Linked DNA regions of Homo sapiens. The protein of the gene in region 2 purifies or fractionates together with the protein of the main gene of each other region. This does not show direct contact. Each region holds a gene or a part of one and is shown on either strand. Other genes may lie near its edges.

Region 1 (3,500 bases), about 120 Mb from region 2:
TCCCTGTCTGAAAACGTGGGAATTGATGCCTCTCCCACGGTAACAGGTCCTCTGCCATAAAAGAACAGAACCTTCCCGCGTTCCTCTATCCATGGAGTGTCTGTGGATCTACGCGAGTGCTTAGATAGAAATTAACCCTGCAGCCGGAGATTAGCGGCCCTAACTTAATTTTCGTCCCACAGATAAGGATGGTCAGCCATGAGTTACATGGTTATTCTCCTAAGTTGCTTTGTGTGTGCACCACACAGAGACGCTGACATCACTCGTTGATTTCATCTGGCCTTGTGCCCTGAGCCTTGATTGAAACCTGGCTAAGTCATGCTGGCCTTAGGAACCACATCTGGACTGTTGGGAGGTGCATGGATTCAAATCTCCGCCGCCGTGGTTGTCCAGTGCCGTGCGCCTCACCGGTCCATGCAGGGGCAGCTGAACCCAGAGGCGCTTCTGTGACAGAGGGCCCGCAGGGGGACTGCTGTCTCATAAAAGCTAAACTCTTCATCCCACACTCTGTGTTTCAGAACAAGAAGAAAATTTTGAGTTTATCATTGTGTCCCTCACTGGCCAAACATGGCACTTTGAAGCCACGACGTATGAGGAGCGGGACGCCTGGGTCCAAGCCATCGAGAGCCAGATCCTGGCCAGCCTGCAGTCGTGCGAGAGCAGCAAGAACAAGGTGAGGCCCCTGGCTGCCCAAAACCAAGGCTGGGGCTGCTCAGGGGGAGTGCGGGCCCCAAGTAATGCCCCAGGGAGGAGAAAATAGAGGACCAGTGTGAATGACAGGACCTAGCTATTCTTTATGAGCAGAAAGCTCAATAACTAAAACGATCAGAAGCACTTTGTGTCTATACCATCATACATGAGTATTCCAGCCTGACCGTGCTTCCCTGGCAGGAGAGCCAAGGTTAAATCTTCAGTCTGTCAGCCAATCCCAGAGGGAATCTTTTGGACTCTTGTGGCTTCTGGGTCCACATTTATTTTTGTTTTGGACAGAATACACTCAGAAAAAAAGAGAGACGGACTTAAAAGATGCACTGTTCAAGTAAATGCCCAGAATTCAAATCGACATCAAGTTGGAAAACCGTCTCTTGTTAGGGACATAAATGAAAAGTAGATGGGTCTGTATGAGCGTGCAGGGAGTTTGGGAAGATAAAGTTTCTATTATCTAAACTGATAAAGCCTGGTATGTGTTTTATTCAATAATTAGAGGTGGTGGTGCAGCTCTTTTAGAATTTGTCCAGCAGGTTTTCTGGTTCTCACCAGAAAACGCCACCCCCAAATGTTTCTATATTAAAAAAATAATGAGAGGCAATTTGTTTTTTGTAGTTACTTAGCTAGAAAAGGAAAAATATTTTAACCTGTATTTTTTTTTCCTTTGGAGAGAGTCTATCTCTGTCACCTAGGCTGGAGTACAGTGGCACAATCTTAGCTCACTGCAACCTCCAAGCTCAAGCAATCCTCCCACCTCAGCCTCCTGAGTTGCTGGGACTACAGGCCTGGCTTGCTTGCTTATTTATTTGTATATTTATTTATGTAATATATATTATTTGTGGAGGTGGGGTTTCATCACGTTGCCCAGGCTGGTCTCAAACTCTTGGGCTCAAGCGATCCACCTGCCTCAGACACCCAGAGTCCTGGGATTACAGGCATGAGCTACCACGCCTGGCTTAACCTGTGTTCTCTAGGCTACTGCCCAGTGATGTTCCTTCTACAAAAGTCCTTTTTCCCATCAAGGATTGCTTCAGTTTCATTATTTTAATGTTTGTTTGTCTTTAACCTCTTTGCTGGGACGTCTTAGACTTTTGGAGAGCATTTTGATATTTCAGACTATGATCAACTAGAAACTAAGAGAAAGGATGTTACCCACCGACCTGCAGTTTCATTTGTAACCATTTAAAGAAATTTCTGCCTATGATTTATGTGCAGCTTTGTCACTAAAAAGAGAGTCTGTCTTTCAGAAAGATGAAGTGTCTTATTTTATTACCCTCTTTAACCAGGGTAAACCAGACCACAGTCATTATTATTATAATGTAATTTGCTTCCCTTTTTAAAAGATGTTTTATACTCAAGGTGGGGAGAACCACTGCCTTTCATTCCATACACCCTGGCTTTACTGGGTCACGTCCACATGCATCCATGATGTGCCTCCTGAAACGAGCACAGGGTGCTTTGGGGCCACCTCAATGGGAAGCAACAGCACACAGCATCCTCCAAGCGTGGGCAGCTCATTCTGAGAAGGAAGGCAGGGAGGCAGGCTGTGTTACCGAACAGAGAGGCACAGGTTCCTGCCTTCATGGAGAAATCACAGTCTTTCACGGCAGACTCTGAGCCCCTGCCACCTCGACCTAATTCAGGAAGATCTGGGATGGTGGCAGCCTTTCCCATTCCACACCTTGCCAGGCTCCTCCTGACTCGTGTCTCAGCTCATGCACACACCAGCCTTAGAATGCTGCCCTCGGCCCTCACTAGGCGCCTGTTCTCCAGGGAATTGCTCCCTTGGGAGGAGGACGCGTTGAGCAACCAAAGGTGGCCGACTCAGAGCTGGTCATCGTGGGCATTGGTTGAACAGGTGTGAGGGCATAAAACATGGAAATACTGTCCACAAGGAGTAGCGGGAGGCAAAAATACAGGCCCAGTTGACCACCAGCTTTATAGTATTTTACCTGCCAGTGGATAATTGAGAGCTGATACAGGTATAGGCATAGCTAGACAGACAGACAAACCAACCAACCACAGAAATGATACAGGTACACAGAGAGACAGAGGCACATCCCTTTGTATGTGTGTGTGTGTGTGTGTGTGTGTGTGTGATCACACACTTGCATTCCAGATGCCAGTGTAAACTGTTTAAACATATTTTGAATACTTGGGTATCTAACCAAAGGGAATTAAAATTCAATAACGCATGATGCTAATTAGACAGTAGTGATTAATACATTATAATTTATTATGTAGCAAGTAATATATTATTTCACATCAATTTGATGAGATGTTTCAATTTATGAAGAATTCTTACGCAAAAATCAAGCTTATTGTAACTGTCCTCTGAAATTGATCAATTTTTGCTTTAACCATAATATTAAATGCATACTTAATAAATAAGCCTCAAAAACACTACATATCAGCCAGACACGATGGTTCACGCCTGTACTCCTAGTGCTTTGGGAGGCTAAGGTGGGAGGATCACTTGAGGCAAGGAGTTCGAGACCAGCCTGGCCAACATAGGGAGACCATTGTCTCTACAAAAAAATTTTTAAATAGCCAGGTGCATGGTTCACACCTGTAGTTCCAGCTACTCAGGAGGCTGAGGTGGGAGGACCACTTGAGCCCAGGAGATGGAGGCTGCAGTGAGCTATGATTGCACTACTCCAGCCTGGGCAACAGAGCAAGACCCTCTCTCTAGGTGGGGAAAAAGGTACATATCCAGTACATATCCTTTCACTTAGAACTTCTACTTCCAGGAATCTATTCTTAGTAAATAATCATGAGTGTGTACCAAGACT
Region 2 (3,500 bases):
AGTTAAAGATAAGCCAAGCCTTTCTTTTGTATTTTTTTTTTAAGAGAACAAATTTACTTTGGTTTTGAGTTTTATTCCTGGCCCTGGGTAGCTTATTTTTTTGACCCTTATTTTCCCCAATTTATAAAATGAAATAGTTATCTTCACTCCCCAGGATTGTTGTGAAGAGTAAGTCAAAAGATAAAATGAGGTGACTCAGGCAAAAGTACCTGGCCCTGTGTAGTGAGTACATTGTATGTGTTACATATATTCTTATTGCTGAGAATCCACGAAAGAATGAATTAAATAATGAGGACCCTTTCATCAGGGTTTTTGAGTGAGTTTTTTAAAATACAAGGTAGTAGTTTGTGTAAATACTAAATCCATTGGTACCTGTGCAGAATGTAGGAAATGGAGTTGCTAATTCCAAAAAAACAGCACATATGCTGAGGAAAGTATAATACCTAATATATATGGTTTAAGCAATGTAAAATTCCATGAATATGTTCCTTTTCATCTTAAAATTTGTGATTTAAAAAACATTGATATTACTATAAAGAATTATTGTTATTTCCCTTGATTTACAGAGTATTGTTACAATCACATTTGAAGTACCAGGAAATGCAAAGGAAGAACATCTTAATATGTTTATTCAGGTGAATGCAATTTTTAACTGATAAATGATTTATCAATGGTTTTGTTACATAGTTGTTGCTATTAGCGATGGTTGGTCTTATTAAAATATGTCACTTGATACAGAATCTCCTGTGGGAAAAGAATGTGAGAAACAAGGACAATCACTGCATGGAGGTCATAAGGCTGAAGGTACAGTTTACTGTTGCAGACTTTCGGACAAAGTCCTTTTCTTGGCTGTTATAAAAACTATATTTGGTTTTAAACAGAAACACTGGTTTTAGTACAAATCATCTTTGTCTACTTTCATTTTTCTTTATTATTTTCATGACTGAAAAGGAGCTTTGGAAATCACTGCATAAGGCTTGATTTATTTGCACAACTTTCTTTAGGGTTGCAGCTAGAACAAACCTGTGTGCTTTGAAATGTTACCTTCTGCTCTCTGTTCCCAAGTACAGAGAAATAATGTTGCAAATCTCACTTCTGCTGAACATTATGCTTCCTGATGCATTTAGCAGACACTAAACATTTGTCATACTCTAAACAAAGTTACAAAGGACTAGAAGAATTCTTGTTCTGTATTTAGAAACCCACTCACGTTACTTGATATTTGGGTATTTAAGTCATGAAAGGTATTTCTTCTAGGAAGCAGTGATTCTAAAGTGTATGCTTAACCAGTCAGTTGAGTGTCTACTCTTGTGTGTTCACAAGTGTGCACAAAGTTTTTGGTAAATTAAGAATATTATTTCAAATAAATTAATTTCATCCCCATAGGAGCCAGTTTATCAGATAATTCATTTTTCATTTCTGCAAATCAATACACAATGAGCTCATATTCAGATAAATATAATAGTTTTTCTTTATTTCATCATTGTTCATTGATTGCAACCCATTTCTAAAACAAATTATTTAATATAATCAAACTCCTTTAACTTCTCAACTTTTCCCACTAAAACTGTGAAACATTATATAAAATCTTTAATCAATAGGATATGATACATATTTCATCATTTTGTTTCAGGTTTTGGTTGTGATAAATAACACTGAAAAACCATCCTAATATATGTATTAACTTTATCATTAGAAAAGGGGATTGTTCAAAAAAAAATCAATACACAGAAACCTTTTTTGAAAATTAAAAACATTAAGAAACTTCTTGTAATTCACAAATAATTGGAATTAAGTAATTTTCTCAGCTTAAGAGTTTGTATTTTTTAAGTGAATATCAGTAATTAATCCATTAACATTGATGCTCTATTTCTGCTTTTAAGTTTGAACTGAGGCTGATTAATGTTCAGTCAATTCTCCTTTGAGCAGGGATTGGTGTCAATCAAAGACAAATCACAACAAGTGATTGTCCAGGGTGTCCATGAGCTCTATGATCTGGAGGAGACTCCAGTGAGCTGGAAGGATGACACTGAGAGAACAAATCGATTGGTCCTCCTTGGTAAGTCTGAAAGGATTCACAGTTTTAAAACAAAGTGAAAAATATATTTGAAAGGGATATCATGTGCCACTCAAACAGATTAACCATTCAGGTCCTCTTTTAAAACTAAATAAGCTTGTGGTCAATGTTTCATCTTTATCACGTTACAACGTTCGTAAAAGCTTGTTAGGACTTTTGTTCTTCTTCAGTTTTAGAAAAGTGGTTAATCCAAGGACCAATGTGACTTTGATGTACTGACCTGGAAAGTTAAAGATGGAATCACTCAATTACTATTCTTTTTGTAAATTTCTAAACACCATAAAGCATTTAATGAACTGGAATTGATAGGTGAACTGTGTCATTTTAATAAGCATAATGTAATCACGTCATATTTTGTTTTGTTTGCAGGCAGAAATTTAGATAAGGATATCCTTAAACAGCTGTTTATAGCTACTGTGACAGAAACAGAAAAGCAGTGGACAACACATTTCAAAGAAGATCAAGTTTGTACATAACACTAGAGGCATTTCTTATCAAAAGGATTGGATAATAAAAATAAGTTTCTACTGGGTATATTTCAAGCATTTATTTATTACTTTAGTTACGAATTCCAATATACTTTAAAATGGTATTTGTTTTACAGCATACATAAAATGTAGCAAATCGGTACTGTAAAACATTTAACATTCATACAGTTATATATAATATCCTTTTTTTTAAAGAATGGTATTTCACAAAAATGTCTTTTGAAATTGGCTTTGGAGTTTACATATACTGAACATGAAAGTTTATAATAATGATGATACAACTTTCAACATTGTCATTTTTTCTTAGAACTTCAGCTGATTGCAGAGATATAATGATTACATTGTTATTAAATTTTTTTAACACAAGTAAGTGTCACCATTTTATGACATGAAATAAAAGGTTATGACTGTTATTGATGTTGATGTTGACGACCTGATCACCTGGCTGAAGGAGTGTTTGTCAGGTTTCTCCATTGTAAAGTTACTCTTTTCCCCCATTTCATACTGTGCTCTTTGGAAGGAAATCACTATGCACAGCCCACACTAAAGGAATGGGGAGTTGTAGTGTACTTTTTTGGGAGTGGTCTACATAATTAATTGAAATTCTTCTGCAAAGGACAGTTGTCCCTTTCGCTTTATTAGTTCGATCATTTATGTTTATCAGTGTGGACACATGAATATTTTATACTTTGGGTTACAATTTAATACTGCTTTATTTTGTTGCTCAAATTAGCCCAGCTTTGACCATTGGGAACTCTTTCCGTTATCTCCTGTTCCCGCCTTTGACATGCCCCCATCAATGTGGGTTTCCGTTATCTCCTGTTCCCGCCTTTGACATGCCCCCATCAATGTGGGTTTCCGTTATCTCCTGTTCCCGCCTTTGACATGCCCCCATCAATGTGGGTTTCCGTTATCTCCTGTTCCCGCCTTTGACA
Region 3 (3,500 bases), on a different chromosome or scaffold from region 2:
TAAAGCAAAAGCATATATTTATCTACCCCATATTCCCAAATAGAAATATTTCTACCCCCAAACTAAAGAAAGAAATGTTATTTCCCTTGAGTCACTTGGGCTAGAAGGAATAAGCCTACTGCCAGAATTGAACATAATTTTCTATCAAAGAACAAAGCTGAGCGCATTTCCCTTCCAGAAGGTGAGAAATTTTTTTTTTTTCTGGTCATTTAACTGCCTTTAACCTCTAGATCCATATTAATTTGCATGTTTGAATAAAAAGAATGAAATATCCTTCTAACCCAAATATATACTTCCTTATCCTTGACAAACAGATCTCAGCCACTTCCTGTGATGTTTCATTGCACTAAGTTGAGATCCTTTGCTCAGGAAGTTTCTCAAGTGTAAAAATATTGGATAAGAAAACAGAAACTAATCTTCAAGTCTGAACTGCATTTAGGCTAAATTGCTTAAAAACAAATGATCAGGGACACAGAGTTCCATCTCAGTGGCAGGTTCTAAGAGCAACTGAGCTATATGACAACTAACATCTCAGGAGAAAACTCTTCCAATAGTGTTATTTTTAAAACTTTAAAGGTATAGACCAAACTTGTCAAGTACATTTTTTAGTATTTATTTCTGGTCTGTTTCAACTCTCCTAATGACATGAAAGTGTTGTGATTGTTTTCTCTTAAAAGTCATCAACTGCTTGGGAGGCCCCGGTGGATCACCGGGTCAGGATTTCGAGACCAGCCTGGCCAGCATGGTGAAACCCCGTCTCTACTAAAAATACAAAAATTAGCTGGGCGTGGTGGTGCGTGCCTGTAGTCCCAGCTACTCAGGAGGCTGAGGCAGGAGAATCGCTTGAACCTGGGAGGCGGAAGTTGCAGAGAGTCGAGATTGTGCCACTGCACTCCAGCCTGGGCAACAGAGCGAGGCTCCAACTCAAAAAAAAAAAAAAAAAAAAAAAGTCATCAACTGCTTTGAAACCTTGAAAAATCTGTAGCATTGAAGAGGGCAGTAACCACAGCATATGCAACCATGAATCCCTAATGCCACCTCACAGAGTGCCCAGCACTTGACTGGTGATTAGCAAATGTCTGCTAAGTGAAGGAAGAAAGAATACTGTTTCCAAAAACCTTGGCAATCTCATTGAGAATGTCTTGGTATTTATTTTCGGATGACACGTGTCCAGTCTGTTCCAACGTCCGAAGATTCCTCTGGATTTTCCTCTTCTTCTGCTCAAGAGGCAGCTGTGCATCTTCAATCATAGATTGGCTATGCTTCATTTCTTCTGGAGTCCTGGAATCTATCATTGCACGGCTCACCATGTCCGTGGCATGGTCTACCTCCTGAAAAGAGAATATCAAGATGCTGAGTTTTCTCTGATCCCCTAATTTCACAGTTCATAAGCTACACAATGCAAGTTAATGTCAAAATGAAAGTAGTCCTCCAGCCAAAGTTCAGAGACTAGAACCAGAACATGTTCTTCCTGAGTTTTGAAGTAGGTCTTTGAAAGGAATTACTTCATCTTTTCGATAGCAAGCCTTATTTGGGAAAAATTCTCAATAGCTACTTTATTGCCAAGGTGACAAATCACTATAGTAATGGACATATTTTAATGGATAACTGCTACTTTGTTCCCCACATGGAAGGATTTCAATTCCTGGATAGGCTAGCTGAGGAAACTAAAACTAGATTACCTATTGAAATGTGGCTATGAGAACCCTGAATGTTCAGAACCCAGCTAAACTCTCACACATCAGCCATGTTTATGGAGAGTCCTAAACTAAACCAACAGTAAGGCAGTCAGAGAGCTTTATTCTTATAAGGGAATCACAAACCAGCAACTCTGAAAAACTTGCAAAGTTTCTTTGAGCCAAAGGGAATAAGAATATTCTAGCACATTATAAATTCCCAAACGATGAGTAAATGAATGAATGAATGAATACTCTTTGGATAGTCTGTTCAAGGAAACAGTAACAAAAAGAGACTATTGGTCTTCCCATTTCATTGTACTAGACAATTGACTGACCCAATAGATGAAGTCTAAGGAAACGACTATTAGTTAGGGACAGTAATCTTAGACACAGGACAGGTAGGTCAATATTATTGGAACATTATTACCAGGTTAGCAGTAAATAACAAAAGCAGCAGCCAACATTGTTGAGCACTTAATGTGCACCAGATACAGATGTACCCACTTAACATGTTTAATTGACTTAATCCTGCCTGTGAGCTGGGTACTATTATTATACCCATTTTACAGTTGAGGAAACTGCGGCACAGCAATGCTTCTAAGTGCACAGAGTTACACACCTAGGAGGTGCAGAGGTATAGTTGATCTCAGAAGTCTGTGTTCTTAGTCACTTATTCATGATACATTTAGGGGAAAATGAAAAATAGTAAGGAGTAAAAGTCTTTTATACTAACCTAGTATAATATTTTACCCACATTGTTTAAAACATACCCACATATTAACAAACGTGTGATTTGAAGTTTTGCTTTACATTTTTTATTAAAAATTTTTAAAAATTAGAGATGGGGGTCTCACTGTGTTGTCCAGGCTGGTGTTGAACTCCTGGGCTCAAGTGATCTACACACCTCAGCCTTCCAAAGTATTGGGATTACAGACATGAGCCACCATGCCCAGCCTTTTATATTTTTTAAATTAAAAACTATTACAAGGATTCCTTGGCAATCAATTAAATTAAGAATGATCCAGGAAAATTATGTGTAGCTGTGCTAAGAAATAGTTAATTAAATAATTAACTTTTGTTTAGGGAGCGGCAATTATTGGTACTAAAATAACAACCTTGAATTTATTTTAGAACGAACAATGACGTATTTTCAAAGATGTTAATAAAAAGCTAAATGCAAGATTGTTGTGAAACCTCACTTACGCTAACATAATGATGCTTTGACTCAGTGGACTCAACATTTGCTTCTGAAGCATTTGGAAAACATCTTTAACATGTGAGTCGCTTATTTGTTTCAAGTTAGTAAATACATAAAATGTGAAAGGTATTTTTCAATATCCTGTCAGCTAGAACTCTCTCAACTGACTTATTTGCCCATTATGATGAACATTTCCGGGCTTTGAAAAACCCAGAACTATCATCCTAGGTTAAGACAAAAGTATATTCGGCATGAATTTGGTGCTGTATTTTCTATTTCATTCCCATTGATACTTCATACAGGTTTATATATGGCTGAACTAAGTCCACTGCAGTAATAGATAAAATTCCTTACTTCCGGACCATGTCAGATACAGTTTCTCTGAGATAATAAACATATGGCATAAAGATTTATGAAGAAAATCAACACCTGTCTATTATTATTTTACACTTAAAGTCAAATTACCTGTTGCGCAGTTGCTGGTGTCTCTAAGATTTCTGTCAATGTGTTCCCTGGCTGGTTCCGGATCACATCAATTATCAGCTTCTTGGTCCTTAACAAACCAGAGAAAGAGACAGACTTTCAGACTGTAGTCCTTATGCACAAAAATCTGTTTCTCCTAA
Region 4 (3,064 bases), on a different chromosome or scaffold from region 2:
AGCCAGACCTGTTATGCCTTCTATTATACTGTCTTCTTCTTAAAAATTGTTTTGAGAAGTCATAATTGTATATACTTACGGGGTACAGTTGCTGTTTTGATATAGGTAGATAATATGGAATGATTAAACCAAAGCTGTTTAACATATTCATCACTTTGTTTGCTTATAATTTTTTGTGGTGAGACACTTGGAATTTACTCTCAGTTATTTTGAATGTAGAATACATTATTGGCTTTAGTTAACCCTGGTGTGCAGTAGGTCTCAAAACTTATTTCTGCTGTCTCTGAAACTTCATTATCTTTGACAAGTAACTCCTCATTCTCTCCCTTGTCCTGTCTCCTACCCCCTAGACTTTGGTGACCATCTACTCTCTATTTCTATGAGTTCAACTTTTTTGGATTCCACAAATGTGAGACTATGCAGTATTTGTGTTTCTGTGCTTGACTTATTTCACTTATGTTGTCCTCTAGGTTTATCCATGCCATAAATGAATAGAATTTTCCTCTTTTTTTAAGGCTGAGTGGTACTCCATTGTGTATATTTATTACATTTTCTTTATCCATGTATCTGTTGATAGACACTTAGGTTGATTCCATATCTTGGCTATTGTGAATAATGCTGCAGTGGACATGGAAGTGCAAATGGACATTCAGATAAGTCTCTTTGGTGATATATATATAATTTTTTCTCTTCAGGTACGTTCTTCAGATGTGTCATGGTCTGATACTCGTAGGACCCTCCGAAAAGATCACCGCTGGGAATCTGGATCCTTATTGGAAAGAGAGGAGAAAGAGAAGCTTTTTAATGAACACATTGAAGCACTTACCAAAAAAAAGAGAGAGCACTTTAGGCAACTTCTGGATGAAACTTCTGCAGTAAGAATCTCTTATTTTTCTCATTTTAATCTGGATGAATCTTGTTAGTAATTTCTTAAAGCAAAGCATTGATATGATTTTTAGTGTCATGGTCTTTAGATTCATTACTGGAATGCATCTTATGACAATTCTCTGATTTTAAAAAATTATGGTATTCTTATTTATTTAGAAATGCCTATTCTTTGCAGTTTTCACATTCATAACTGCTCCCATAGTAATTCAAAATGTCCTTAGCCATGTGGTCAGTGATCCCTCCTAATAATAGATTTAGCAAATTTCTTCTTTTGATCCATTTTCAATTTGGTACTATGGCCTCTTGTTCGGCAGTTTGTACGCTTTGTTATCCAGGTTTTGTTCCTTTTTATTTGCTCTCTTTTTGGTGATGGTTTCTTCAGAAGTTATGATGTTTGCCCATGTAAATACAGGGTTTGCAGGTGATTGTCTTAGGCCACCTTGAAAGTATGGCCATGAAAATAACTCTTGTGGCAAGCCAACAAAAAGAAATTGCATTAACGCTGCTTCCCTGTCCCTAACTAGTCCAGTTACGCTTGGGCATTACAAGAGATCGCAGGTCAGTGTGTAATATTATGTACCTATGTGCTGCAGTTTGACTCCCTAAGTAAAAGTGAGTTGTATTTATGTTTTTTATTCATGTCTTTTCAAAGATTACCTTAACATCCACGTGGAAAGAAGTAAAAAAAATCATTAAGGAAGATCCTCGATGTATTAAGTTCTCCTCCAGTGACAGGGTAAGAGGATTTTGTGTCGAGATTTACTGTCAGTCTATAAATACTTAAATCGGGGCCTAACAGCACTACTATCTTAACCAAAATGAAGTTGATTGTTTTAAGTGAATTACTTTTAAGTGTATGAGAAGTAAATCTGAATTTTAAGTTTATGTATTGTTTCTTGCATGATAAATTAGCAAGACAGCACAATAGAAAGTTTAAAATTTTAGTACTTGGGGTGAAGCTTGTATTTTAGGATCTTAGAAATTTAATGAAGCTGCAGTTTTATTTTAGTCAGGTACCACTAGACAGACATATTTAGGCTGGCAATTGGTACCAAACTATCAAAGCACTTGACTCTTAAGCCAAACAGAGCCCTGTAATGAGATCGCTAGTTCTCATATGCTTCAAGGTCTGAAACAGTGAATGATGTCAAGAAAAGTGTTGTTTACTACAGTCCATTTTATCCCTAGGCCTTTTATTTGTTTTCTTTTACATCATTCCCCTTTCCTGGTTGGTTTCTGTAGGTCTGGGCATCTTTTATAAAAACTCATAAATCTAATATTCTTCCCCCTCAAAGTCTATTGGATTGTAGATGTTTGGACCATAAAATATGCATGACTGGGAAAGAGGGGTAGACCCAGTCTCAGTTTCTAACTTTTCTGACTGTTTAGAATTGATAATAAAGTCTTTTTTAAGTCCAAAGAGTTTATTCATCTTATTACTTTTGGCTTGCCAGAAAGCTAAATGCTCATTACTGTGTAAGTTAAGTATTGAGTGTTAACCTACAGTTGCTGTATCCACAAATTACTCTTTTTGTTCTTGAAGTTAAAAATACAGTGTGCAGGAAGTGAACACTTAATCCTTAATATCCTTATTTTTAAGTGTCCACCTCATGAGGTTGTTGTGAAGATTGAAGTAGATGATCCTCATAAAATGCTCAGCAGTGTAGCACATAGCAAGTTCTCAAGTTTTAGCCACTACTAATTTATGATTCCTCATTCTTTCTATTTGCCGCAAAAATGAGCCTTGCAAATTGTGATTTAATGAATTTTATATATGAACAAAATGTACCCTGTTGCCTTTTTCTTTTGAATTTTAAATTTTATTATGTGACTTACACATTACTGTTTAATAAATAATTGATGTTTATTTTGGAATTAGTGGGTTTTATTTCCATAATCTCAACTTTTTTTTTTTTATTAACAGAAAAAACAAAGAGAATTTGAAGAATATATCAGAGACAAATATATCACAGCCAAAGCTGACTTCAGGACGCTTTTGAAAGAGACCAAATTTATAACATATAGGTGTGTGCAATGAAATGTTTCATATTGGCAGTCATTCTCTTTACTAGTCTTTACTCTAATGGTCAGAGCATTCTTTGCATTCACACACATGTTGACATTATTAATTTTTAGGGATAAGAAGATACCAACTTCTGTCCAAAGTCAAATACAG

Evidence for each region.
Region 1: the proteins of ZNG1B (region 2) and AGAP1 purify together in Homo sapiens (affinity purification with mass spectrometry; one large-scale study listed by BioGRID and IntAct). This does not show direct contact.
Region 3: the proteins of ZNG1B (region 2) and IQGAP2 purify together in Homo sapiens (affinity purification with mass spectrometry; one large-scale study listed by BioGRID and IntAct). This does not show direct contact.
Region 4: the proteins of ZNG1B (region 2) and TCERG1 purify together in Homo sapiens (affinity purification with mass spectrometry; 2 studies listed by BioGRID and IntAct, with this or other methods). This does not show direct contact.

What each region holds. Positions count from the first base shown.
Region 1 is NC_000002.12:236,036,043-236,039,542, forward strand, and holds part of AGAP1 (arf-GAP with GTPase, ANK repeat and PH domain-containing protein 1), read left to right. Parts: intron 1-518; coding exon 519-673; intron 674-3,500. UniProt on the Homo sapiens protein: GTPase-activating protein for ARF1 and, to a lesser extent, ARF5. Directly and specifically regulates the adapter protein 3 (AP-3)-dependent trafficking of proteins in the endosomal-lysosomal system.
Region 2 is NC_000002.12:113,493,191-113,496,690, forward strand, and holds the end of ZNG1B (zinc-regulated GTPase metalloprotein activator 1B), read left to right. Parts: intron 1-566; coding exon 567-635; intron 636-738; coding exon 739-804; intron 805-1,929; coding exon 1,930-2,059; intron 2,060-2,446; coding exon 2,447-2,553; 3' UTR 2,554-3,014; downstream 3,015-3,500. UniProt on the Homo sapiens protein: Zinc chaperone that directly transfers zinc cofactor to target metalloproteins, thereby activating them.
Region 3 is NC_000005.10:76,693,285-76,696,784, reverse strand, and holds part of IQGAP2 (ras GTPase-activating-like protein IQGAP2), read right to left. Parts: intron 3,431-3,500; coding exon 3,343-3,430; intron 1,332-3,342; coding exon 1,119-1,331; intron 1-1,118. UniProt on the Homo sapiens protein: Binds to activated CDC42 and RAC1 but does not seem to stimulate their GTPase activity. Associates with calmodulin.
Region 4 is NC_000005.10:146,506,333-146,509,396, forward strand, and holds part of TCERG1 (transcription elongation regulator 1), read left to right. Parts: intron 1-695; coding exon 696-875; intron 876-1,300; coding exon of another isoform or gene 1,301-1,408; exon of another isoform or gene 1,409-1,446; intron 1,447-1,540; coding exon 1,541-1,624; intron 1,625-2,812; coding exon 2,813-2,913; intron 2,914-3,064. UniProt on the Homo sapiens protein: Transcription factor that binds RNA polymerase II and inhibits the elongation of transcripts from target promoters. Regulates transcription elongation in a TATA box-dependent manner.